7 linked regions of the Homo sapiens genome follow. The protein of the gene in region 5 purifies or fractionates together with the protein of the main gene of each other region. This does not show direct contact. Each region holds a gene or a part of one and is shown on either strand. Other genes may lie near its edges. The genes, in order: PPM1G, LBR, CSDE1, SLIRP, ARHGEF39, PEX13 and HEATR1.

The links.
Region 1: the proteins of ARHGEF39 (region 5) and PPM1G purify together in Homo sapiens (affinity purification with mass spectrometry, with the first as the bait; one large-scale study listed by BioGRID). This does not show direct contact.
Region 2: the proteins of ARHGEF39 (region 5) and LBR purify together in Homo sapiens (affinity purification with mass spectrometry, with the first as the bait; one large-scale study listed by BioGRID). This does not show direct contact.
Region 3: the proteins of ARHGEF39 (region 5) and CSDE1 purify together in Homo sapiens (affinity purification with mass spectrometry; one large-scale study listed by BioGRID and IntAct). This does not show direct contact.
Region 4: the proteins of ARHGEF39 (region 5) and SLIRP purify together in Homo sapiens (affinity purification with mass spectrometry, with the first as the bait; one large-scale study listed by BioGRID). This does not show direct contact.
Region 6: the proteins of ARHGEF39 (region 5) and PEX13 purify together in Homo sapiens (affinity purification with mass spectrometry; one large-scale study listed by BioGRID and IntAct). This does not show direct contact.
Region 7: the proteins of ARHGEF39 (region 5) and HEATR1 purify together in Homo sapiens (affinity purification with mass spectrometry; one large-scale study listed by BioGRID and IntAct). This does not show direct contact.

The regions. Positions count from the first base shown.
Region 1 is NC_000002.12:27,399,592-27,403,091, forward strand, and holds part of PPM1G (protein phosphatase 1G), read right to left. Parts: intron 1-3,500.
Region 2 is NC_000001.11:225,411,039-225,414,538, forward strand, and holds part of LBR (delta(14)-sterol reductase LBR), read right to left. Parts: intron 1,608-3,500; coding exon 1,416-1,607; intron 403-1,415; coding exon 299-402; intron 1-298. UniProt on the Homo sapiens protein: Catalyzes the reduction of the C14-unsaturated bond of lanosterol, as part of the metabolic pathway leading to cholesterol biosynthesis.
Region 3 is NC_000001.11:114,730,485-114,733,984, reverse strand, and holds part of CSDE1 (cold shock domain-containing protein E1), read left to right. Parts: intron 1-127; coding exon 128-253; intron 254-1,168; coding exon 1,169-1,381; intron 1,382-3,336; coding exon 3,337-3,477; intron 3,478-3,500. UniProt on the Homo sapiens protein: RNA-binding protein involved in translationally coupled mRNA turnover.
Region 4 is NC_000014.9:77,711,103-77,714,600, forward strand, and holds part of SLIRP (SRA stem-loop-interacting RNA-binding protein, mitochondrial isoform 1 precursor), read left to right. Parts: intron 1-3,498. UniProt on the Homo sapiens protein: RNA-binding protein that acts as a nuclear receptor corepressor. Probably acts by binding the SRA RNA, and repressing the SRA-mediated nuclear receptor coactivation. Binds the STR7 loop of SRA RNA.
Region 5 is NC_000009.12:35,662,396-35,666,635, reverse strand, and holds the start of ARHGEF39 (rho guanine nucleotide exchange factor 39), read left to right. Parts: upstream 1-1,440; 5' UTR 1,441-1,466; coding exon 1,467-1,604; intron 1,605-1,785; coding exon 1,786-1,880; intron 1,881-2,143; coding exon 2,144-2,264; intron 2,265-2,509; coding exon 2,510-2,628; intron 2,629-3,243; coding exon 3,244-3,314; intron 3,315-3,561; coding exon 3,562-3,690; intron 3,691-3,894; coding exon 3,895-4,124; intron 4,125-4,240. UniProt on the Homo sapiens protein: Promotes cell proliferation.
Region 6 is NC_000002.12:61,031,220-61,034,719, forward strand, and holds part of PEX13 (peroxisome biogenesis factor 13), read left to right. Parts: intron 1-199; coding exon 200-894; intron 895-3,500. UniProt on the Homo sapiens protein: Component of the PEX13-PEX14 docking complex, a translocon channel that specifically mediates the import of peroxisomal cargo proteins bound to PEX5 receptor.
Region 7 is NC_000001.11:236,584,017-236,587,516, reverse strand, and holds part of HEATR1 (HEAT repeat-containing protein 1), read left to right. Parts: intron 1-26; coding exon 27-115; intron 116-1,064; coding exon 1,065-1,276; intron 1,277-1,575; coding exon 1,576-1,697; intron 1,698-2,300; coding exon 2,301-2,492; intron 2,493-3,500. UniProt on the Homo sapiens protein: Ribosome biogenesis factor; required for recruitment of Myc to nucleoli. Involved in nucleolar processing of pre-18S ribosomal RNA. Required for optimal pre-ribosomal RNA transcription by RNA polymerase I.

The sequences.
Region 1 (3,500 bases), on a different chromosome or scaffold from region 5:
TGAATCTGGACAGAGTGAGATTCTGTCTCAAACAAAAAGTTCAAACATCATTAGCCATTTAGCCATCAGAGAAATACAAATCAAAACTACAATGAGATACCATCTCACACCCACCATTAGTTATTATAAAAAAGGTGGATAAGTGTAGTGAACATGTGAAGGAACTGGCATCCTCATATATTGCTGGCAGGAATGTACGACGGTACAGCAACTTTGGAAAACAGTTTAGCAGTTTCTCAAAATGTTAAACACGTAGTTACCATATGACCCAGCACTTCCACTCTTTGGTATATAACCAAGAGATATGAGGACATATTTCCACACAAAAATTTGTACATAGTATCACTATTTATAATAGCAAAAAAAAAAAAAAAAAGTGGAAATCCAAAATGTCTATCAACTAATGAATGGATAAACAAAATGTGACAAATCCATACCATGGAATATTATTCAACCATAAAAAAGAACGAAACACTGATTGATTCATGACACAACATTGATGACCCTTAAAAATATTACGCTTGGCCGGGCGTGGTGGTTCATGCCTGTAATCCCAGCACTTTGGGAGGCCGAGGCAGGCGGATTGCCTGAGCTCAGGAGTTCGAGACCGCCCTGGGCAACACAGCGAAATCTCGTCTCTACTAAAATACACACAAAAAATTTAGCCGGGTGTGATGGTGGGTACCTGTAGTCCCAGCTACTCGGGAGGCTGAGGCAGGAGAATCGCTTTAACCCAGAAGGTGGAGGTTGCAGTGAGCTGAGATCGCATCACTGCACTCCAGCCTGGGCGACAGAGGGAGACCCTGTCCCCAAAAATAAAAAATTAAAATTAAAAAATTATGCTTAGGCACAACTATGATACATCAACTGAAAAATATCAGGCTGGGTGTGGTGACTCATGCCTGTAATTCCAGCACTTTGGGAGGCTGAGGTGAAAAGATTCCTTGAGGCCAGGGGTTCAAGGCCAGCCTGGACAACACAGTAAGACCCTGTCTCCATGAAAATAAATGAATAAACAACAATAATTAAAACTGACCTCCTGGAGATAAGAAAAAGAGTTAACTAGGAGATAAGAGAAAATTCAAGAATTGTTAAGTCATTAATTTGAGATGGAGTTCTGGGTCTTTTGCTTCCCTTCCATCAACTAAGTGAGGAAGGTTCCAACAGAAACAAATGGGAGTGCCTAAAAGAAAACTAGCATCTCTTTCCTGGTTACACAGGCAACAGACTTGGTGATCTGCCTGAGCTCTGTCTATCTGAACAGAAGGAGAGAATTTTAAAAAGTGCCCACTGGAGCCTGAACCATCCTGCTGGTATCCATCCAAAGGAGTCCAGCAGTATGAGGTCAAGGATACACAGCAGGTGGTAAAAGCCACAGAAAAGTCTAAAAACCAAAAGTGGAGATCAAGTCCCTCTGGGCCAGGCCTGGCTATTGCTGCAAACACAGAGATGGTGAGTGATAACTGGATATGAGACTGGAGTTTTAAAGAGATTTCTGATTCTATTAAGCTCTGTAAAATAAAACCTGCAAGGCACTGATCTAGAAAGAAGCAAAAGAACCTTGGGTCAGCAAAATACTTATTCTTAAATCTACTACAACAATGTATGTGTGATTTTTTTAAAAAGAAACTTACAGGCAAAGCTGAGGGGTAGAGGGAATACTTGGGGTGGAGAGTAATTTACTCTTCCAGGGGCCAACAAGCTTTAAAGTCAATTTCAAAAATACACATGCTTAGTAAAAGCATCCAGATATAAAAGGTAGTGTATTTAGAATTCCATTTATAAAATGTTCAGAATAGGCAAATTCATAGAGGTCATGTAAATTAGTGGATGCCAGGGGTTAGTGGACGGAAGATAGGGAGTGACTGGTAAAGAGTACAGGGTTTCTTTTTGGGGTTCTAAAACTGATTGTGGTGACAGTTGTACAACTCTGTTTGAATACACTACAAAACAGGCAGGCACGGTGGCTCATGCCTGTAATCCCAGCACTTTGGGAGGCTGAGGCAGGCAGATCACTTGAGGCCAGGAGTTCGAGACCAGCCTGGGCAACATGGTGAAACCCTGTTTCTACTGAAAATATAAAAATTAGCTGGGTGTGGTGGCGTGAGCCTGTAGTTCCAGCTACTCAGGATGCTGAGGCAAGAGAATTCGCTTGAACCTGGGAGGTGGAGGTTGCAGTGAGCTGAGGCTGCGTCACTGCACTCCAGCCTGGGTAACAGAGCAAGACCCTGTCTCGAAAAAAGAAAAAAAGAAGAAAAAAAAGAAAATATACTAAAAGCCACTGAATTATACCCTTAAAATGAATGAATTATACCCTTAAACCCACTGAATTATACTCTTAAAGTGAGTTCATATACTGTATGGTATATGAACCATATGTGGTATGAACCATACAGTATATGAACTCTATCTCAATAAAGCTGATTAAAAAGGAACCTGTAAGAAATAAATAAAATAAAAAGGAACCTGTATACACATTTTCAAATACTAAATATGATTAAAAGGTGTTGTTTTTCTGCTAGCATTGGGTCAAAAAGGAAAAAAAAGTTGATATACTTCATCTCTGAACTAGATCTAGAAAGAAACAAAAACAACTACACTGAAATCATACTCTGTCTACAAAATGTCATTAAACATCTTAAGCTCAGTTCTAAAGATTTGTTTCCAGATAATACAATGTCAAGAACTACTGATCAGACCTGTATAAATTTCTATGTTCAAATTCAAGCCCTTACCTCTCAAAATTCAATTCTAAGACTAATAACCCAATAGAAGATTAGAGGTTAGGGAAACAGTAGTAACAACTGCTAAGGAATCAGACAATAGAACTTTGTGTAAAATATCCTTGAAATCTTGAGGAATACGTTCTGATTGTATTTTCCAGTTGCTTGAGAACTTATAAGGCAATGGTATAAAATATAAAATAATTTCTAGACCAGGCATGGTGGCTCACACCTGTAATCCCAGCACTTTGGGAGGCCGATGTGGGTGGATCACGAGGTCAGGAATCGAGACCATCCTGGCTAACATGGTGAAACCCCGCCTCTACTAAAAACACACACAAAAAATTAGCCAGGCGTGGTGGCGGGCGCCTGTAGTCCAGCTACGCGGGAGGCTGAGGCAGGAGAATGGCATGAACCCGGGAGGCGGAGCTTGCAGTAGCTGAGACCGCGCAACTGCACTCCAGCCTGGGTGACAGTGTAAGACTCCATCTCAATAAATAAATAAATAAATAAATAAATAAATAAATAAATAAATAAATAAAATAAACATAAATAAAATTCCTCAGCCTGGGCAACACTGCAAGGCCCTATCTCTACAAAAAAAAACTTAAAAAAAAAAAATTAGCCAGTCATGGTGGCATGTGCCTATATTAGGCTGAGGCTGGAAGACCCCTTGAGCCCAGAAGGCTATGCAGTGAACTATGATCGAGCCACTGTAAAGGCAGATAAGTGTAGTGAGGATGTGAAGGAACCGGCACAAGAAATCCCATACTCCTT
Region 2 (3,500 bases), on a different chromosome or scaffold from region 5:
AGGAAAATGCATTTTTTCTTACATTAATTCATCCACACTATCACTTTCCTACATAAATATAAACTGATATAATAAAAATAAAGCAAAGAAAAGTTATTTAATTTGTCATAACCTGTAACAGGGCATCTTAAACCTCTGGAAAATACTTACAAGAAAGTATTTTGATAGATTTATGGAAAGCCATAATTATCCCTAAAAATATACCACCCACTGCTTATTTTTGAATGGTCTACATTTCTTTCTAGCAGTTAATTAGACCTATTGAATTGAAATTTAGAAGAAAAAAAACCAGACATACCCATCCAATCAATCCGGGGCGCAATTCACAAAAGTATTTGAGATCAAAAGTACCAATTCGAGGGTTTAATTCACGGCCAATGAAGAAATCATAGACAGCATTTCCTGAGAAAGGAAAAGTGTTTACCCAAACAGCATTCCAAACCCAGTCAGGAGGCTTTACAACGGCACTGCCGCCCACTATCCAGGCTCACAATTCCACTGCCTGCAAGACCCTGAGCAGGGCTCTGGTGGTGAGAGGCAGACAGGACGGCACAGACGAGCGGAACCAGGAGATGCCTGCCCGACTGAAAAGGCAGTTGCTCCAGCCTTTGGGGGAGCCGGGGGCCCAGGTTTCTTAAAAAAGTTAACCAAAATCATGGGGGCCCCCCCAAAGGACTTTACACTCCATTTTTTTTAGATAGGCGACATTTTTTTATATTGAAATACTTCAGGTCAGCATCAACCAATTTGTAACCTCTCGTTTCTCTTGTTTTTTGTTTGTTTTGTTTTGAGATGGAGCCTCGCTCTGTGGCCCAGGCTACAGTGCAGTGGCACAGTCTCGGCTCACTGCAACCTCCGCCTCCCACGCTCAAGCGATTCTCTTGCCTCAGCCTCCCGAGTAGATGGGATTATAGGTGTGCACCACCACGCCCAGCTGATTTTTGTATTTTTAGTAGAGATGGGGTTTCACCATATTGGCCAGGCTGGTCTCAAACTCCTGACCTCAGGTGATCCACCCGCCTTGGCCTCCCGAAGTGCTGGGATTACAGGCATGAGCCACCTCACCCGGCCAGTAACCTCTGTTGTTTTTTGTTTTTTAAAGAGTGTTTACTATTTTGGACAAAGAAATAATATTTGTCATAAGTCAAAATGCCTGTAAGTTTACTAAACGTCTTACTGTCATCAAGCAACTGCAAAAAAAAGAAATGAGTAAGAAAGTATGAAGGTAAAACAAAAATATTTTCTTCCTTTAAATTCATATCTCTTTAACGTTTTTCTTCATCTTTTCATTTTTTCTTACTTCTCTTCATTTCCCAAAAATGAAGTTAGAAAAAAAGCAATCTATTCAAATCTGGAAATGGCTGCTGGAGGGCTCTGGGACGCATTCATCCAACATGCAATTCATCACTGCTCACCAGAGCTGGCAGGCGACAGGTCATTCCGGGGCGCTTTCAAAGAGCGCATGTAGAGATACACACTCAAGACCACACAAAAAACAGTGGCCGCAAGTGCAAACTGAAGAAAATGACTGTACACGTAATGAAACTCTACGCCCTGGAAGAGAGATGTTCCGATGACTGCAGATGTCAGGATAAAAGCATAGAATCCTTTAAAAAAAAAAAAAAAAGGAAGTGGAAAATTAATATTAACCCAAGGCTCACATGAAACTTACGCCACTATGAAACAATGCAATGTTCATTTTTAAAGTCTTAATTTCATTATTCAGACTAAATACACACAAATATGCAAATAAGCAATGTCTGAGGTATAATTTTCAATATACATACCATTATCTCTTGTAGAACTTTCCAAATAGTTTAACATATTGATTCTTTTTCAGTTCAAATGGTCATTATTTGCTTTTAATTAAGGGAAAACAGACAAGAAGTGCAACCTGAAAATTCCCACAATCCAAACTCTCAGGCACAAAGTCAAATGGCTAATTATTAACAGAGCTGGGCCAAACACATATTTTAAAGTCTAATGCCATTACCTAAGGGGAGGGTATTATGCACCTACCAGGGGTCAGGCACCGAGCCAGGTTGGTAGTTACAAAATTATAAATATTTATACTTAACCAAGTTGCCAATAATGGTTTCAAAAGATTCTAGTAAAACTCTATCATCCAGAACAGAGATCTTAACATGCCACCCGCAGAAAAGATGCCACAACACAAATGCCCGAGGCTAGGCAGGGGACTGCGAGTACCTGGGGGGTAGGGACAGCAGGCGGGGACATTCACGTGCAATGCCAAGTTAAAAAGCACCCGCCCTGTGACGCTCCACAGAACTCTCGTTCCGGGCTAGTCCTGCAGCCACACAGAAAGGCTCACTGGAAGATCCAATTTTTTTCTTTTGGCTAAAGAAATAGTTTTGCTTTCAAAGGAGCTGAGTGCCTCAAAGAGCTGTGATCCTAAAAAGTCATCAAATCCATTTGGATAAACGGTCAAAAGCAAAAAAGAGGTAGCTGTTATTTATATGAGAATTCTAAAACCAAACCTTTTGTAAAGTAAAATAGTTGTCTCAAATTATCTGAATCCACATTTTCCACAAATACTCCAAACAATAACTTCTAAATTCTGACTTTTGAAAATATTCATTTACCTTTCATAAAATGTAATTTTAAAAAAGAATGGTTAGATAAAGCAGTCTTTTGCTCTCTAGCCTATGTGGATTAAAAATAATCATCCAAAATGTCTTAGGAACCTCCTTAGTTAATAATCGTAAAATCTCGAAAAGAAATCTCAATACTTGAACCAGAGTAATTAGATGAGGAAATTTTTAAAAAGGATCAAGCAACTTGGCCAGCCACTCCCCCACTGGCTCCAAGAGCTCCATGTCCAAGTGCTGTGCTCAGTCTCTGAATGTACCACACCCCTCAGAGGGAAGTGAAAATATAACACAAGACTACTTAGAAAAGAATTGGTACCTACAGAGAAACACACAAAACACTGAAATCAAAGGACCTGGCGGCAAAGTCAACAACCCACCTCACCCCAGACTCACCTTCCCTGGTGTGGTAAGTGAACCACCAGAGGGAGGGAGGGTGCCAAAGGTTCTAAAACTTGCTCCATCAGCAAAGAATTTGGTAAAAGCAACAAAAAGTCTAACAATACCAATGATAAGTATTAAGCACCCACCAGGGGTCAGACTCTGGAGCTGGGGGAGACGTTTTATCACATGACTGGCACTAAAAGGCAGAAGGTGTCTAAACTATCTTTGGCTTCCCCTTTAGAACCCAGTGGAGTGACTGCAGACAGAGTAGATGCTGCGTAAGTCTCTAAACAAAGTATCCAAAGTTAAAAAATGAAGAATTGAAAGGATAAAAAGTTCAACCATTACAATACATAATGTAATTCTCAAGAAAAGGAAAACACTCTACTCCGTCTTGTCAAATGGAAAATCATTCAAGGATGACTACAAAATAGATCTGTACTTTGCCAAAGTCTTCAAATGACAAAGCTGGACTGAAGCACTCAGCACATGCTCTTACAGTGCGAG
Region 3 (3,500 bases), on a different chromosome or scaffold from region 5:
GACAGTCAGTTAACTTGATCTTTGGCCTTTTAAGATCAGAGTTGGTTTATGTTTTTAAGAAACACTTAAAATTATGTGATTCTTCCTTCCTCTGTCCCCCCACCACCTCCAACCCCTTCTGATTTAGGGTAAAGAAGTTGCAACAGATGTCAGACTATTGCCTCAAGGAACAGTCATTTTTGAAGATATCAGCATTGAACATTTTGAAGGAACTGTAACCAAAGTTATCCCAAAAGTACCCAGTAAAAACCAGGTAAATAATCTTTTTCAGGAGAGTCCTATTTCGCCTCAGTAGTAATAGAATAATATGGTGTGGTATACTGAGATTTTATCTTATTCAGTTAATATAATGTGGTAGTGGAACAACTAAGGACCTCTTGTTACGTATATTTAAACTAAAAGAGAAACCAGATTTATATATTCATAAATATGGTGTTTTTTTTTTTTTTTTTCTTTTTTTGTGACAGAGTCTCGCTCTGTCGCCAGGCTGGAGTGCAGTGGCGCGATCTCGGCTCACTGCAACCTCCGCCTCCCGGGTTTAAGCGATTCTCCTGCCTCAGCCTCCCAAGTAGCTGGGACTACAAGGGCATGCCACCACACCCAGCTAATTTTTGTATTCTTAGTAAAGACGGGGTTTCACCCTGTTGGCAAGGATGGTCTCGATCTCTTGACCTTGCGATCTGTCCACCTTGGCCTCCCAAAGTGCTGGGATTACAAGTATGAGCCACCTCGCCCAGCCAAATATGTATTTTTTTTTACTGGGTGATGAAAAAAGGCCAAAGAAGAAAATGCTAATTAAATTGGAAAGCACCTGATTGGATTAGACTGCAGTTCAGGTGTACATTTGTTCCCTCCTCTGCCCCTGCCCTACCCCTCCAGTTTGTGGGGAAGGTGAGGACACAAGTGGTGTCATTCCTGGAAAAATTCCTTAAATAAAATCTTTTGGTACCAGAGTGCTGGGTCTTAATTGCATTGTTGTAATTTTATGGTTGACTCGTGTGACCATAGACCATGAAGCTTTCACATTGGACTTATGTTGTCAACACCTTTTTTCGCTTCAGGGAACTAAGTTAAAAATAACATGGGTTTACTATGTGTTCTTCTTGTTTGACTTAGAACTAGGAAGGATGAGAAATCTCCAGCTAAAATCGTTTTTCCTTCTCATCAGAATGACCCATTGCCAGGACGCATCAAAGTTGACTTTGTGATCCCTAAAGAACTTCCCTTTGGAGACAAAGATACGAAATCCAAGGTGACCCTGCTGGAAGGTGACCATGTTAGGTTTAATATTTCAACAGACCGACGTGACAAATTAGAGCGAGCAACCAATATAGAAGTTCTGTCAAATACATTTCAGTTCACTAATGAAGCCCGAGAAATGGTAAGTGTTGGATATTACTGGATATGTATCTAATATGCGAAAGCCAATGTTATATTCAAGTTTATACTACTAAATTAAAATTTTTCTTAAGTTAAATGACCCTAATGGGCATTTACCTTGTTAAGGTGATTAAGAATCATACACATTTGAGTCAGTCTGGGTTATCTCTGGCAGTTATCTTGGAAATATATGTGAAAAAATTTTTTGAATGGAAATCTGGACAGGATTACTAAGATATTTTTAGAGTCAGTGATTCTCAGGCCCTTAATATGAAGAGTAAGAAAATTCAAGTTCATCATTGTAGAAAGTAGATTTTCCCAAACTATTTCCTAAGACATTTAATTAGTGGTTTCTGTTTTTAGGAAACACAATTCTTCCTCCAGTGTGGTCCAGGGAAGCCAAAAGATTGAACACCCATGATCTAGACACTAGATCACACATAAAATACACTAACAGCAATGATAGCTGATGAGCTTTTTTAAAAAAAAAATCATAGGCACGGTGGCTCACACCTGTAATCCCAGCACTTTGGGAGGCTGAGGCGGGTGATCACTTGAGGTCAGGAGTTCAAGACCAGCCTGGCCAACATGGTAAAACCCCGTCTCTACTAAAAATAGAAAAATTAGCCAGGTGTGACGGTGGGCACCTGTAATCCTAACTACTCAGGAGGCTGAGACAGGAGAATCGCTTGAACCTAGGAGGCAGAGGTTGCAGTAAGCCAATACCATGCCGTTGCCCTGCAACCTGGGTGACAGAGGAAGACTGTCTCAAAAAAATAATTGCAAAAACATCTCATCATGTTTTAAGAAGGTTTAACAATTTGTTGTGTTGGGCCACATTCAGAGCTGTCCTAGGCCATGGTTTGGACAAGCTTGCAATTAAACCAGAGTCAAAAAGGTTTTGTTTTGGCAGAACTTCACAAATTGTTTTTTAAGAGTTTGTGTCTGGGAGTGGCATAAACCAACCAGATTTTTTCCCAAACATGTTTTATGAACTCATTTTCTCAGACATAATTTGCATTTAGTTACGTTTGGGATCATATCATCTACACTATAACTCAGTGTTGCCAGTGGAACTGGGTACATTGAATGAAAATTTAAGTTTCTTGAGTTTTTTTTAATCCTTTGCCTTTGAAGAACTGGTTGTATTTGACACAGTGTATTTAACTTTAAAAGTTTGTAAGTCTGAATGTGTGATTTTTTTTTTTTTTTTTACATTTTCAAAGGCAAGATCTGTTTTGCTTTACGGTATGGAAAATATAACTTGGCTACTGTCAGGACTTGGCAAGGATTAAATGTCAAAATATTGTTTAGGTCATATTTAAAACTTACAGAATCACTTCTGCAGTGAGCAGATATGTAGTATGTAATACAATAGCAGATTGATAATTTGTGTTCATTGTTTCATTAAACATGAGTATCTACCATGTTCCAGGTACTCTTGATACAGTAAGCCTTACAAAGCTGATAATTTAGTAAGAAGGAAAAAAAAAAAAGAGAAAAGATTGCATATATTTTATTCTTCAGATGTAAATTTTAACTCTTTCCTGGGCCTAAACTCATGCAATTTTTGAGGTAGAGACTGGAGAAGTGCCTTTGTCTACTTTGGAATTATGGTCTGTAAATTAGTGAAGTTTCTGGAGATTATATTGTCATTAGACTTGGGCTTTTATGAAATACATTGTGTTCACGTGTTTACGTTCACATGTGGTAATTTTTTCTAGTGCATATTTGCCAGGAAGTAGCAATTGGAGAGTCTTAGAAAATTGCTCAGGTTAAGTTACTTTGTTGAAAGCAATGAGTTTGTACTTAAGTGAGAACAGTTCAAATGTGGATACAGTATTTGTGTCACATCAGAGAAAATTCCTGATGAATTTAACTTGATGGTGGTTGTAAAGTTGAATGTTGCCTTCTTGACAAGTTTCACAGCCAGTGAAAATATTATTTGGGTTTCAGGGTGTGATTGCTGCCATGAGAGATGGTTTTGGTTTCATCAAGTGTGTGGATCGTGATGTTCGTATGTTCTTCCACTTCAGTGAAATTCTGGATGGGAACCAGCTCCATATTGCAGATGAAGTAGAGTTTACTGTGGTTCCTGTGAGTTGTTTCTGAGAAAAGTT
Region 4 (3,498 bases), on a different chromosome or scaffold from region 5:
AAATGCTTGAGGGGATAGATACCCCATGCTCCATGATGTGCTTAATTTACATTGCATGCCTATATCAAAACATCTCATGTACTCCATAATAAATATACATATTTATATATATAAATATATAAATATATACACCTAATAATATATAAATATATATAAATATATACCCAAATAAATATATACACCTACTATACACTCACAAAAATTGTTGAAAAAAAAGCTTAAAGTGTTTTAAAAAATTCTTATCTTGCAACAGGGTCTCGCTCTGTCCCCCTGCAGGGGTGCAGTGGCCTGATCTCACTGCAGCCTCTGCCTCCCAGGCTTAAGTGATCTTCCTGCCTTGGCCTCCTGAGTAGCTGGGACTATAGACATGTGCCACCATGCCCAGCTAACTTTTTTGGTATTTTTTAGTGGAGACAGGGTTTCGCCATACTGTCCAGACTGGAAAATTTTTTTAATTTTCATTTTCTTTAAGAGACAGGGTCTTGTTCTGTCACCCCAGGTGGAGTGCAGTGATGCAGTCATGGCTCACTGCAACCTCTGCCTCCCAGGCTTAGGTGATCCTCCCACCTCAGCCTCCTGAGTAGCTGGGACTACAGGCATGCACCACCACACCTGGGTAATTTTTGTATTTTTTGTAGAGATGGGGTTTCGCCATGTTGCTTATGCTGGTCTCGTCGAACTCCTGGGCTCAAGCTATCCGCACACCTCGGCCTCCCAAAATGTTGAGATTACAGGTGTGAGCCACTGTGCTGGCTTATTTTTGTGGAGATGGGGGTCTTGCCATGTTGCCCAGGCTGATCTTGAACTCCTGGCTTCAAGCAATCCTCCTGCATTGGCCTCCCAAAGTGCTGGGATTACAGGCGTGAGCCACTGTGCCCGGCCTACAGTCTTTATTGATTACATTTTGAGTGATACTTGATTAAAAAGTGAAAAAGCTTTATCATAGGTATTTGTGTTAGTTTTTTTATTGTTGTATAACAAAATACCACAAGCGTAATGGCTCAAAAACAACACATCTCTCACAGCTGAGCACAGTTTAGCTGGGTCCTCTCCTTAGGATCTCACATAGCTATATATTCCAGGTGTCAGCTGGGGCTGTGGTGTGTCTCATCAAAGGGTCAACTGGGGAAAAAGACTGACTTGCAAGCTCCCTCATGTGGTTGGCAAAATTCCTTTTTTTTTTTTTTTGAGATGGAGTCTTTCTCCCTTGCCTAAGCTGGAGTTGCAGTGGTGCAGTCTCAGCTTACTGCAACCTCTGCCTCCTGGGTTCAAGCCATTCTCCTGCCTCAGCCTCCTGAGTAGCTGGGACTACAGGCATGCGCCACCACGACCGGCTAATTTTTTTTTTTTTTTTTTTTTTGAGACGGAGTCTCACTCTGTGGCCTAGGCTGGAGTGCAGTGGCGCGATCTCGGCTCACCACAAGCTCTGCCTCCTGGGTTCACGCCATTCTCCTGCCTCAGCCTCCTGAGTAGCTGGGACTACAGGCGCCCGCCACTACGCCCGGCTAATTTTTTGTATTTTTAGTAGAGATGGAGTTTCGCTATGTTGGCCAGGCTGGTCTCGAACTCCTGACCTCAAGTGACCCGCCCGCCTGGGCTTCCCAAAATGCTGGGATTACAGGTGTGAGCCTTCATGCCCGGCCATAATTCATCTTTAACTGTAGGACTGAGGTCTGTTTTCTTGTTGACCTTTGGCTCTGAGTTGGGAGCTGCTCTCACCTAGGAACTCCCTGCAGTTCCTTGTTACCTAGTTTATCTGTAGGCTGTCTTACAATATGGCAGCTTGCTTCTTTAAAGCCAGCAAGGGCTTCTCCAGTCTGCTTAAGATGGCATCTTATACAGAACATAATCACAGGAGTGACATCCCATTACTTTCGCTGTATTCTTTTGGTTAGAAGCAAGTCAGGTTTCTCCTCCACCCAAGGAGGGGAGGAGATTATATAGGGTGTAACATGGGGAATGCATGGAGATCATGGGGCCCATCTTAGAATTCTGCCTACTACAGTATTCTAATAAGGACTTGAGATTTCTAATAATTGGCAGAGGATATTTTAAGTTTTATCTTCATTGAGTACCATTTTCTTTTTTAGATTTATAACTAATAAAACAATATTTTTATATTAATTACATTTCCTTTGCTTTCTTGTGAGGGTTTAGAAATCAGCCTATAAATTTATCCTGGGCTGTATTTTTCTGTGGGCTTTTTTAGGGTGTGATGTGAGTACATAGAGTTCACACACACTTCACTGAAACCCTTTTTTCCTTGCAGCACTGTAAGGGCTGTGGTAAAATAACAACATAAAGGAACTTAAATTCTTAATTCTTGGTTTAATGTTACTTGACTCCCAAAGACTAACAGATTAGTTATATATAGTGCCGGTGAAGGTGTAGGGAATCTGGCACTCAAGTTGTTGAGAAGTTCAACTGGTACCTTCAGTTCTGTTGTGTAGTTGGCAAAATACCAAAGTTAAGAATTTATATTTGCTTTGATCTAGCGGTTACTTTTCTAAGAATTTATCCTACAGAAATGTGTGGTCAAGAATATTCCAAAGCAGCATTATTTAATGTCAAGTAAGAAGAAGAAACTTAAATGTTCATCACTGGGATTGATTAGATATTAAGTCACTGATGCAATGGAATTTTATATAGTTGAATAGAAAAGTTGGGCACATGTATTATGGACATGAAATATTTTCTGTAAGTTTGAAAACTTCAATTTTTTCAAGAGCATTTAAATAAAAAGTTCCTTGCAAAAAAATGAATAGATTTTTATTGGTCCATAAATAAAATAGGACCTGCAAAGAATAGATCTTAGATTTAAATAAAAGGCGGCTTTGATGTTGGTAAAACAAAATAAAATATGACAAAAAAAATATTTTTTTGTTCCATTCATTGTACTCTAGTTGGAAATCCTGGTTCCTTTTTTGAGACAGGTTCTCTCTCTCACTCAGGCTGGAGTGCAGTGGCACAATCAAGTTCACTGCAGGCTTGAACTCCTGGGTTCAAGGGATCCTTCTGCCTCTGCCTCCTGAGTAGCTGGGATTAGTCGTGTGCCACCACACCTGACTAATTTTTTGTACTCTTTGTAGAAATGGGGCTTCACCATATTGCCCAGGCTGGTCTCGAGCTCCCGCACTCAAGCAGTCTACTCACCTCAGCTCCCAAAGTGCTGTGATTACAGGCATGAGCCACCACACCTGGACTGAGTTATTTTTTTTGAGACAGCCTTGCTCTGTCGCCCAGGCTGGAGTGCAGAGGCGTGATCTCAGCTCACTGCAATCGCTGCCTCCTGGGTTCAAGTGATCCCCCTTCCTCAGTCACCCAGATAGCTGGGACTACAGGCATGGGCCACCACACCCAGCTAATTTTTGTATTTTTAGTAGAGATGGAGTTTCACTATGTTGGCCAGGCTGGTCCCAAACTCCTGACCTCAAGCCATCCATCCACCTCAGCCTCCCAAAGTGCTGGGATTGAGCCACTGCACCTGGCCTATGTTTT
Region 5 (4,240 bases):
CCACCCAAAGCACTAACACACACTGGCAGCATTCACAAACACACCCATCACCAACTGCACCCCAGGTGTTGTGGTCTACTCTCATCACCTGGGCTCACAGTGACACCAATTACCATGGGATTATCTGTCCTCTTCCATGTTTGAGCTCTTAGTGTGTGGACTGTCCCACATTCACTTGAGACAGTGTAACCAGTCCTTTACCTATCTGGTATCACCACCAGTTTCCTTGGGACATAAGCCCAAGGTACAGTCTGATCCAAACTCTCCCCTTCCTTCATCCAAGCCCTTCAAGTTATTCCTCCCTGGTCTAAGCCCAGCATTATTCCTTTCTTAGAATTCTTAGAATGTCAGAGCTGGTGGGGAGGTGGTAGAGACCTCAGAACCCTGACAATCCTCTGGTTCTTGGCTTGCGGCCCAGATTCCTAGGAGTCCAAAACAGTAGGGAGGGAGCCTAAAGTTTCTGACATTTTGTTTTTTTTAATAACTTTTTTTTTCTAACTACAAAGTAATGCATGCTTAATGTAGAAAACTTGGGAAAGGCAGAAGTATAAGAGAATTTTTAAAATCACCCTGTTTGTCCCATTCATCCCTTTAGCTTCAGTGATCCAGTGCCTGGCACAGATACAGATTAGGTACTTAATACACATTTGTTAAACACATTATCTTCAATTCCATTACCCGGAGATAAAAACCACAGTTAACTTTTTATTTTTATTTTTTATTTATTTATTTTTTTTTTGGAGAGATGGAGTCTCGAACTCCTGGGCTCAGGTGATCCTCCTGCCTCTGCCTCCCAAAGTGCTGGAATTACAGGTGTGAGCTCCCGTGCCTGGCAACAGAGTTAACTTTTGATTGTTTTGCCTTCCAACATTTTATATATGTTTTATACAAAGGGGATTATATTATACACCTTTGTAGCCTGCTTTTTTTCCTCTCAGCAATATACTTACTATGTGCGTTTTCCCATATCGATAGCTTCTTTACAACACCATTTTTAATACTTTCATATCATTCCTTCAAATGGCTATACCTTTTCCTAGCCAATTCTGGGAACAACTGACCCCCTGGCATTTGGCATGGGCCCAGGACAGAATGTGTACTGTAATGACCGCCCCCCGTCCCAATTCTCCAGATAGGACATTAAGTTCCTGCCAGCATCTGCAGCCCGTCTCCTGACTCAAAGTTCAGGCTGCTGCTCCAACATAGTGCCACTCAGAGGAGGGCTCCACACCTGCCCCCAACCTTGCCCTGCCCTGCCCTGCCTTGGCCGGCGCCGCGCACCTAAAGCGCCGCTCTGGCGGTGGGGCTGGACAGAAGAGACCCTGCGCGGTCCGGCCGCTCGCCGCGCATGCTCCTTCCTGCGCGCTGCCCTCCCCGGCCCCGCCTCCGCGGCTCCCGCCCGCGAGCGGTTGGGATTTGAATCTGCCGCGGACTGCAGCCGGAAGTGTCGATCCCTCAGCCAGGGCATGGAGCTCTCCTGCCCCGGTTCGCGGTGCCCGGTGCAAGAGCAGCGTGCCCGCTGGGAGCGGAAACGCGCCTGCACCGCCCGGGAGCTGCTAGAGACCGAGCGGCGCTACCAAGAACAGCTGGGGCTGGTGGCCACGGTGGGGGACCTGGCACACGCTCCCATTATAGGACAGGGACCCCAGGGTGTGGGAGGGTCTCTGCGAGGTCGGTAACCCGGAGCATGTAGGGAGCCTGGGCAGACTTCTGCGGTTTCTGGGGGCGCTTGGCGTTAGCCTTCTCTTCCTCTAGGCTAAGAACCAATGTTCTCTCCTTCCGCAGTACTTTTTGGGGATCCTGAAAGCCAAGGGGACCCTGCGACCACCTGAGCGCCAGGCCCTGTTTGGCTCCTGGGAGCTCATCTACGGCGCCAGCCAGTGAGTGGAAGGGGCACAGGGAGAGGAAAGGAGGGAGAGTCCTGGCCTGTGGCCGTGCACAGAGCTTGGAGTCAGACTTAGGTTCTATTTGGAGTCCGCCAGTTAGCTCACCTGTGGCCTTGGCCCAGGGCCTTAGCATGCCCTTGTTCTCCATCTGTACAATGGGGTAATAGCACTACTATTAGTGCTATTCTCATGAAAACTAAATGAGGTGGTGCTTGAGTGGTTCTAGAGCTGCCCTTTTGCTGTCCTTGCCCACACAGGGAGCTGCTTCCCTACCTGGAAGGAGGATGCTGGGGCCAAGGGCTGGAGGGCTTCTGCCGCCACTTGGAGCTCTATAACCAATTTGCTGCCAACTCAGAGAGGTCCCAGACCACCCTGCAGGTAACCTGGAGATGACCTCAAATCTTGCCCCTTACCTTTCCCCTTCATCTGGAGACCCAAACTTCATACATTTCCTGCATTTATAGAGCCCTCTGGGTGCTCAGCTCTGTGGTAAGTTCCTTGTAGAGAAACGAGAGTTTCTCTCAGGAGCACAGCTTACTGAAGGCTGGGAATGTGGATACAGATGAATGCAATATAAGGAGTGGCTTCTCTCCCTGCTTCCAATCCTTTCTCCCTCACTCCAGGAGCAGCTAAAGAAAAATAAAGGTTTCCGGAGGTTTGTACGGCTTCAGGAAGGCCGCCCTGAGTTTGGGGGCCTTCAGCTCCAGGACCTGCTCCCTCTGCCTCTGCAACGGCTCCAGCAGTGAGTGAACTCTTGATTCCAGCCGCCTCTCTCTTTTAGTTTGTATGACTGCTGCCCTCAGCTTTGTGGGATGCCTTGGGGTCGATCCCAAACTCTTGCCTCGACCCTGAGCCAAATTGCTTCTAAAAACCTTTTGCAAGAGTAAATGTGAACCCATTGGAGTACCCAGGGTCTGCAGCCTGAGGCCCTCAGCTGGAACTGTGGAACTTTAAATTGAAGTGAGGGGGCCTGTACTAGGGCCTGAGGCACGGTTTCTGGAAAAGTTTCAGATGCGGGGCTGGCCTGGGTTAGAATTTCTGTCTCTGGGTTAAGCCTGAGTTAAGGGCTATAGTCAGGCTGTCTGTAGCATCCTCCTTGGGTTGATAAACTTTCATCTTCCAATCTGGCCTCCTGAAGTATGGCTAGTCTGCCAGTGACTCTTCAGTGTGGGATGGAAGAGGGCTGTGTGGTGTGAGCCTGGTTCTGAGTCCTACATGAAAGAAGGGGATACAGTAGCCAGAAGCAGATCTTTCCTGGCCTTCAATTGAAGTATGGGTAGAGGGTGATCTGCACATCAGGCAGGGGGAATTCTGCCTGGCTCTGCTTCCCCTCAGACTTCCCACTGTTGAATTCCAGGTATGAGAATCTCGTCGTAGCTTTGGCTGAAAACACAGGTCCCAACAGCCCTGACCATCAACAGCTCACACGTAGGTTCTTGCTCCTCGGCAACGCAGGCTGGAGGCTTCCTCTCCTGTATTCCTTTCTGATTCTGACCTCCAACAATGTCTGGTATGACCCTATCTTCCACTGACATGTATACAGTGTCCCTACTGCTCTGCCTTTTCTTCAAGAAGTCAGACCCTGACCCTGGTCCCTTCCAGAATAACCTCTTTCACAACCATGGCACCCAAAGTCAAAGTTGTATGGGGAGTAAGGTGGGAGATGTTATTCCAGGGGCTGCCCGACTGATAAGTGAGACTGCCCAGAGAGTCCATACTATTGGTCAGAAACAGAAGAATGACCAGCACCTTCGGCGTGTCCAGGCTCTGCTCAGTGGACGCCAGGCAAAGGGGCTGACCTCAGGTAGCTTGCCTACTTCCCCTTCAATCCTCAACTGCCCCATCTTTTATTTTTATCTAACTCCAAATGCCGACCAGCTGCTCTTTTCTTACTCACCCTTCTTCCTGTACTGACCCAGCACATAACCCCTATTTTCTCAGCCTCCCTTTCCTCTTATTCCCATGTATCTTGAAGCTGCACCAGAATAACAGCGCTCCCATCCCCCAGGGCGCTGGTTCCTACGCCAGGGCTGGCTGTTAGTGGTGCCTCCCCATGGGGAGCCTCGGCCCCGCATGTTCTTCCTCTTCACTGATGTGCTCCTCATGGCCAAGCCTCGGCCTCCACTGCACCTGCTGCGGAGTGGCACCTTTGCCTGCAAGGCCCTCTACCCCATGGCCCAGTGTCATCTCAGCAGGGTCTTTGGCCACTCAGGAGGCCCTTGTGGTGGGTTGCTCAGTGTAAGTAATAGGTGGGAACCCTAGACCCAAAATATGTCTCAGATGCTTATGGGCTGGTTTATCTCCCTGGTCTGGGTCCCTTTTCATAGGAACAGAGCCATCTACATTGAGAGAGG
Region 6 (3,500 bases), on a different chromosome or scaffold from region 5:
GGTTGAGGCTACAGTGAGCTTTTGATTGTGCTACTACACTCCAGCTTGGGCAACAGAGTGAGACCCTGTCTCTAAATCAATTAATCAGTCTTCAGTAGAATTTGTCATAGCACCAGGTATATAGGAGATGTTTAATACTTACTTTGAATTGAATTTATTGTATGCTTAAATAACTGTTTTGAATCTTTTTTGGTTTTAGATCTGCTGATTTGGGTCCTACTTTAATGACAAGACCTGGACAACCAGCACTTACCAGAGTGCCCCCACCTATTCTTCCAAGGCCATCACAGCAGACAGGAAGTAGCAGTGTGAACACTTTTAGACCTGCTTACAGTTCATTTTCTTCTGGATATGGTGCCTATGGAAATTCATTTTATGGAGGCTATAGTCCTTATAGTTATGGATATAATGGGCTGGGCTACAACCGCCTCCGTGTAGATGATCTTCCACCCAGTAGATTTGTTCAGCAAGCTGAAGAAAGCAGCAGGGGTGCATTTCAGTCCATTGAAAGTATTGTGCATGCATTTGCCTCTGTCAGTATGATGATGGATGCTACCTTTTCAGCTGTCTATAACAGTTTCAGGGCTGTATTGGATGTAGCAAATCACTTTTCCCGATTGAAAATACACTTTACAAAAGTGTTTTCAGCTTTTGCATTGGTTAGGACTATACGGTATCTTTACAGACGGCTACAGCGGATGTTAGGTTTAAGAAGAGGCTCTGAGAATGAAGACCTCTGGGCAGAGAGTGAAGGAACTGTGGCATGCCTTGGTGCTGAGGACCGAGCAGCTACCTCAGCAAAATCTTGGCCAATATTCTTGTTCTTTGCTGTTATCCTTGGTGGTCCTTACCTCATTTGGAAACTATTGTCTACTCACAGTGATGAAGTAACAGGTAAGAGAACTGTAAGGGAACAGGTTCAGATACCATATAACAATCTCAAATTTCAAGAATAGATTTGTTAGTTTTCTTTATATTGATTTGTATTTACTGTTTCCAGTTATATTTTCAGTTAAGAGCTTCAAAACTGGCAGAGGAATATATAGCAAAAATAGGCTTGCTGATTAGTTTATTGTTCAGTTTAATAGTGCACATTACCTGTTTACAAGGTACTGAAATTGGTGCTGTGGAGGATACAAAGATACATAGGGCATAATTCCTATCTTTCTAAAATTTATTGGAAGGGAGGTGGTTTAAGACACATATACAGGTAATGAGGCAGAAAGTGTGATAAGAAATATAACAATTGGGGAGAGACATAAGGTTTCTTGAACCTTTTTTAATATGCAAGACACTGTGCTAGGTATTTTGTGTGTTTTATCTCATTTAATTATTTCAACAATCCAAAGAGATAGGAATTATCCTCATTTTGCAAGTGATAAAACTGAGATCCAGAGAACTCACTTACCTAGGGTCACATCTTTAATAAGGCAGAACTATAAACAAAACCAGGACTGGTTGAATGTTAAGCTGTATTCTCTCAACTAGTAGAGAGTATTAGCTCACTTTAGAAAAGAGAAGCTAACATTTTTTACTGTGGTATCCAGGAAGAAATGGCATCTAAGTTAGATTTTTGAAAGCTAGGCAACCTTTCAAAAGTTAGATAAAGAAACAAAAACTATCAAGCTGATAGACCAGCTTGAACAAAAGTATATAGGCAGAAAATATGAGATTTATTTGGTAGTTGTCCTATAGTATTGCATTGGATCGTAAGAAATAATGCTGAGAAATTAGGTTGAAAGCTAATAGTAGAAGCTCTTAATTGGCATTATGAGACTTAATCTTTACATAAGGAATGGATGGTTTTTTGGTAGTTTATGTTTGTTTTTGTTTTTAAGCAGACTGTGACATACATGTAAACGAAAAAGTCAGTCTGAAGGGTTTAAGATAAATCAGTAGAAGTCAGCACGTTGTAATTAGGTGGTAAAGTTCATAAAGGATTTGGGTTGTATTCACCTTTGTATTCCTACTGTCTAACCTGCTTGACACATAGAAGGTACTTAATAGATATTTATTAATTTGGGGGCATCAGTAATGATACTTTTGCATTAGACTGTTTGAGAGATAATGAAGACCCAAAATAGAGTGTGTGAGAAGCAGGATTCATATAATAGATTCAGAGGATGTAGTTACTGACTAAATGAGGTATATAAAGGCAAAGTAGAAATCAAAATGCCCTAGACCTTTAAATTTGGGTTATTAGAAGGATAATGTTTTATTAACTCAATAAATATTTGTTGGGTGCCAACTACATACCAAAGAATTCTCAGAGCTAGGGATATAGCAATGAATAAAATATATTCTAAAAATCTCTGCCTTTGTGGCAGTCTAATAGGGAGAAACAGTAAATAAATAAGTAAAATATATAGTAAGCCAGAAGGTACTGGTAAGTGCTATAGGGGAAAAAACAAAACTGGGAAGAATTTTGGGAGTGTCAGGAGGAGGAACAGGGGTTGCAGTGCTACATATAGTCAGGGAACGCCTCCCTGAAGGAGTTAAGGGAGTAAGTCCTACAGCTCTTTGAAGGAAGAGTGTTTTCAGTCATAGGGAACAGCAAAAATGTAGAGGTATGTAAGTGGCATATCATGGGAACGGGAAGGAGGCCAGTGTGATTGGAGCAAAGTGTTAGTGGCAGGAGATGAAGGGAGTAGATGGTATAAGTTGTAGACATGTGTAAGAACATTGGCCTTTATTCCAAAATGGGAAGCCACTGGAGATTTGTGAGCAAAGGAGTAATATGACCTGACTTAGGTGTTTTTTTTTGTTTTGTTTTTTGTTTTGTTTTTTTTCTTCGGGAGACAGAGTCTTGCTCTGTCACCCAGGCTGGAGTGCAGTGGCGCGATCTCAGCTTACTGCAACCTCCACCTCCTGGGTTAAAGCAATTCTCCTGCCTCAGCTTTCTGAGTAGCTGGGACTACAGGTGTAGGCCACCACACCCGGTTAATTTTTTGTATTTTAGTAGAGACGGGGTTTCACCGTGTTGCCCAGACTGGTCTCAAACTCCTGAGCTCAGGCAGTCTGCCCACCTCAGCCTCCCAAAGTGCTAGGATTACAGGCATGAGCCACCACACCCAGCCGACTTAGGTTTTAAAAAGAATACCTTTTTGCGGGCAGTCGCTTCCAAGATAGCCAAATAGGAACAGCTCCGGTCTGCAGCTCCCAGCAAGATCGACGCAGAAGGCGGGTGATATCTGCATCTCCAACTGAGGTACCTAGTTCATCTCACTGGGACTGGTTGGACAGTGGGTACAGCCCACAGAGGGCGAGCTGAAGCAGGGCAGGGCATCGCTTCACCCAGGAAGCACAAGGGGTCAGGGGATTTCCCTTTCCTAGCCAAGGGAAGCCATGAGTGACTGTACCTGGAGGAATGGTACACTCCTGCCCAAATACAGCGCTTTTCCTATGGTCCTCGCAACTGGCAGACCAGGAGATTCCCTCCTGTGCCTGGCTCGGCAGGTCCCATGCCCACGGAGCCTTGCTCACTACTAGTGCAGCAGTCT
Region 7 (3,500 bases), on a different chromosome or scaffold from region 5:
TACTCTGGATATTTTTTTCCCTTTAGATTTTCAAAGAACACTTCAGTTCAGAAGTGACGATTTCAAATCTTCTGAATCTCTTTCAAAGAGCAGAACTTTCAAAGAATGGAGAATGGTATGTATTCATTTCTCCTCATACTATTTTGAATTGATGAAGTTCTTATATCAAGTTCTTTCTATTTCTTCTTCTTTTTTTTTTTAAGGCTTTGATTACATGACCCTTTTGTCGTGGTAGTAGAACAGATCTTACTGTAATACTCTCTTTCATTATACAGTTAATTAATTTGTGTTTGTGTGTGTTCATTATACTGTTCTCTATGTTTGGAATTTCTCTTAATAAAATGCAAAAGGAAGTATATAATGTATGATATTGCATTCTGGGAAGTAAGATGGGTAGGACTTTCTAATTTGCTGCTTTATGTAATTTTTACTTTATAATTAAAAACAAATACCAATGTGTTAAACAAATTAAAAAATAAGTTCAGAGACACATGATACCATCTGTGGTAAGTTTTTAATGAGCTCTGTTTATTTCATTTTTGGCACCAAAGCTTTTTGCAAGAAAAAGTAAGCAAGCTCCATAGAGGATGAGAGTGTGTCTTACGTGTTTTTGTATCTATCGTATGGGTAGATATCTATCATGTAGGATGTGCTTGGTTCATTTTTTTTGAGTGCCTGAGTGAACCTGATTTCCGGTAGAGTTGAGACATCTAGTGTGATATGTCTTATGTTATAGTTAACCTCTAGTGATTTCTCTAAGAAAAATTATTATTTTTTTTTTAAGATTAGACAGGATGAGCAGATTAAAAGTATTGTTGGCCAGGCACAGTGGCTCATGCCTGTAATCCCAGCACTTGTACAAAAAATAAATAAATAAAAATATTGTCACAGATAACTCTGTTATTGGCATGGATTTTAAGTGGTGTCTTAGTGTATCTGAATAATAGTTTTGGTCAGGAGACCAGGATATTGTCAGTTAAGCTGGAGTAATGTAATGATGAATTTTTGCCCAATTGAAGCCTTCCAATGTGTCTTTCAACCAAGTGTGCTTGCATGTCTTTTAGGTACGAGGTACTTAAGATAGCCGCTGACATATTAATTAAAGAAGAGATACTGAGTGAAAATGATCAGTTGTCAAATCAGGTGGTTGTATGTTTGCTGCCATTTATGGTTATCAATAATGATGATACGGAATCTGCTGAGATGAAAATTGCTATATATTTATCAAAATCAGGAATCTGCTCCCTGCACCCTCTATTAAGAGGCTGGGAAGAAGGTAAAAAATTCAGTTGTTTTTTTAGAAAAAGTGAACAGATAACACAAAAGAAAACAAGGAAAATTTAAAATTTATTGTTGGTCATGCTTATATGCCAGTAAGGTCTTTTAAAATTTTTGCCAAGATAAAAAGTATACAGTGAAAAGGAAGCCAATTCATAGACAAATTCAGAATCGGATACAAGGAAAAATAGAAAGCAAACCTTCATAAACAATAGTAAAATGTTTGCCTGAATTCTTCATGTGATTCTTTGAGTGTTGGTGACATAAGAGCTCTCTGCATTCGATTTTACTTTACAGCTCTTGAAAATGTAATTAAAAGCACAAAGCCAGGAAAACTAATCGGTGTAGCAAATCAGAAGATGATTGAGTTGTTGGCTGATAATATAAATTTAGGAGATCCTTCTTCAATGTTAAAGATGGTAAGTATGCTTTGAAAGTCCACCCCCTGGATTTCTTTCTCATACTCTTATTAAATTCTCAGCTTTTGCTTTACTAGATTTTTCTTAAAAAAAATTTCTTTTATTCTTGAGTACTTGGTTTTACTTTAAACGTTGCAGTGTTGTTTAATATATTCTGTGCAATGTTTGAAATCTTTTAACATTTTATATATTTTTTCAATGTGGATCCATATCACACCCATAAGAATAATATATCCTTTTTACCACCATTTTTTCTCATTCCCATTTAAAATATTAGTCTTTTTGTTGTTGTTGTTGTTAAAATAGCAAAATATAATCCCAAAGAGGAGAAAATTATCTTTGCCTTATTAAATAAACCTTTGTAAAGGATTAGATGTGTGATTTAAATACATTAACCAGTTGGCAAGTGCAATTATGTTCATTACAGTTTCTGAAATTATTCTTATAATTACTTAGAAATCAGTGCTTAGTACTTTATAAAGGCTTTCTGTTTGTCATCTCACTTTAAATGTAAAACACATAATACCTAGATAGACCTGAGTTGAAAAAATTGTTTTATGAAAATCAAGAGCAACTGGTAATAGAGTGTGTTTATTTTTCAAGGTGGAGGATTTAATAAGCGTGGGTGAGGAGGAGTCCTTTAACCTGAAGCAGAAAGTAACGTTTCATGTGATCCTGTCTGTGCTCGTCTCTTGTTGTTCATCTTTAAAAGAAACCCACTTTCCATTTGCGATAAGAGTCTTCAGTTTGTTGCAGAAAAAAATAAAGAAGCTTGAAAGTGTCATTACTGCAGTGGTAAGGAAAGCAGAATCTCCAGAAAGTGGGATGTTGAATAAAACAACAGCCTGGCCTATTAGTCACAGCAAAACTGAAAATCAGAGGCGAGATGTTGAGTCTGTGGATAGTAGCTGGATGAAATGTGAAGCAGTCTTGGGTAGCAGTGAGATAGTCAACTAGGCACTCCCTTGCTTTTGCGGAAAGTTTAGTTGAATTATAAAATTTTAGGGTTGCAATATTTTGTATCTGATGCCTGACTCTCCTCTCTTTTATTGTCTTTATTGGATAATTACCCAAGCTACACCTAACTACCTCTAGCGATGAAGAATTCACTTGGTGTGTTAGTGCTTGAACAAAATACTATTTCATTCAATTGTTTACTAAAAATAGATCTTTTAGGCTTTAAATAATTTTAATATTACATAGATGTGTATCCCTCCAGCCTACTACTGTCTTTCATAGTATTACTAAAGGACATGTTTCAGCTGTTTACATTTGACATGTTTTGAGGTAGCAAGACTTTTTTTTTAATATCTGCTATATGTAAGGATTTTGTTTTTATTTGTCCTCCAAATTTTAGAGGGCTTCTCATTATAGGATTTACTAAATGAATTATATCTTTTTCACATTTACGTATACCCGCAGGATTTTATAAGTTCTGATCATGGCCATTGTTAGCTAAAATGTGTAAACTTTAAAAAGAGTAAAATCTTCATATTTTGAAAAATAGTCCAGATAGGCCCTTCTTAACTTTTAGTTTCTTGGTGTCTTTTGTGAAGTATGATGACCTGAACTATACTGGTTCTCAGTGTTAAAAGTATGGACAAATAGAGTGTTTTATTATACATATGTAGATAACAGGTTATTTTATATTGCTTTACTTTTAATACCTTTCTCGAGGTCATGAGCATGTTTTCGCCTGTAGCAGCACGTTGAGTTAATCAAATCCCTCACTGGAGACGTTACATTGTAAATCTGGCTTTGGATTATTTTCCTTCTAAGTTATTACTCTGTACTGCTTGTACA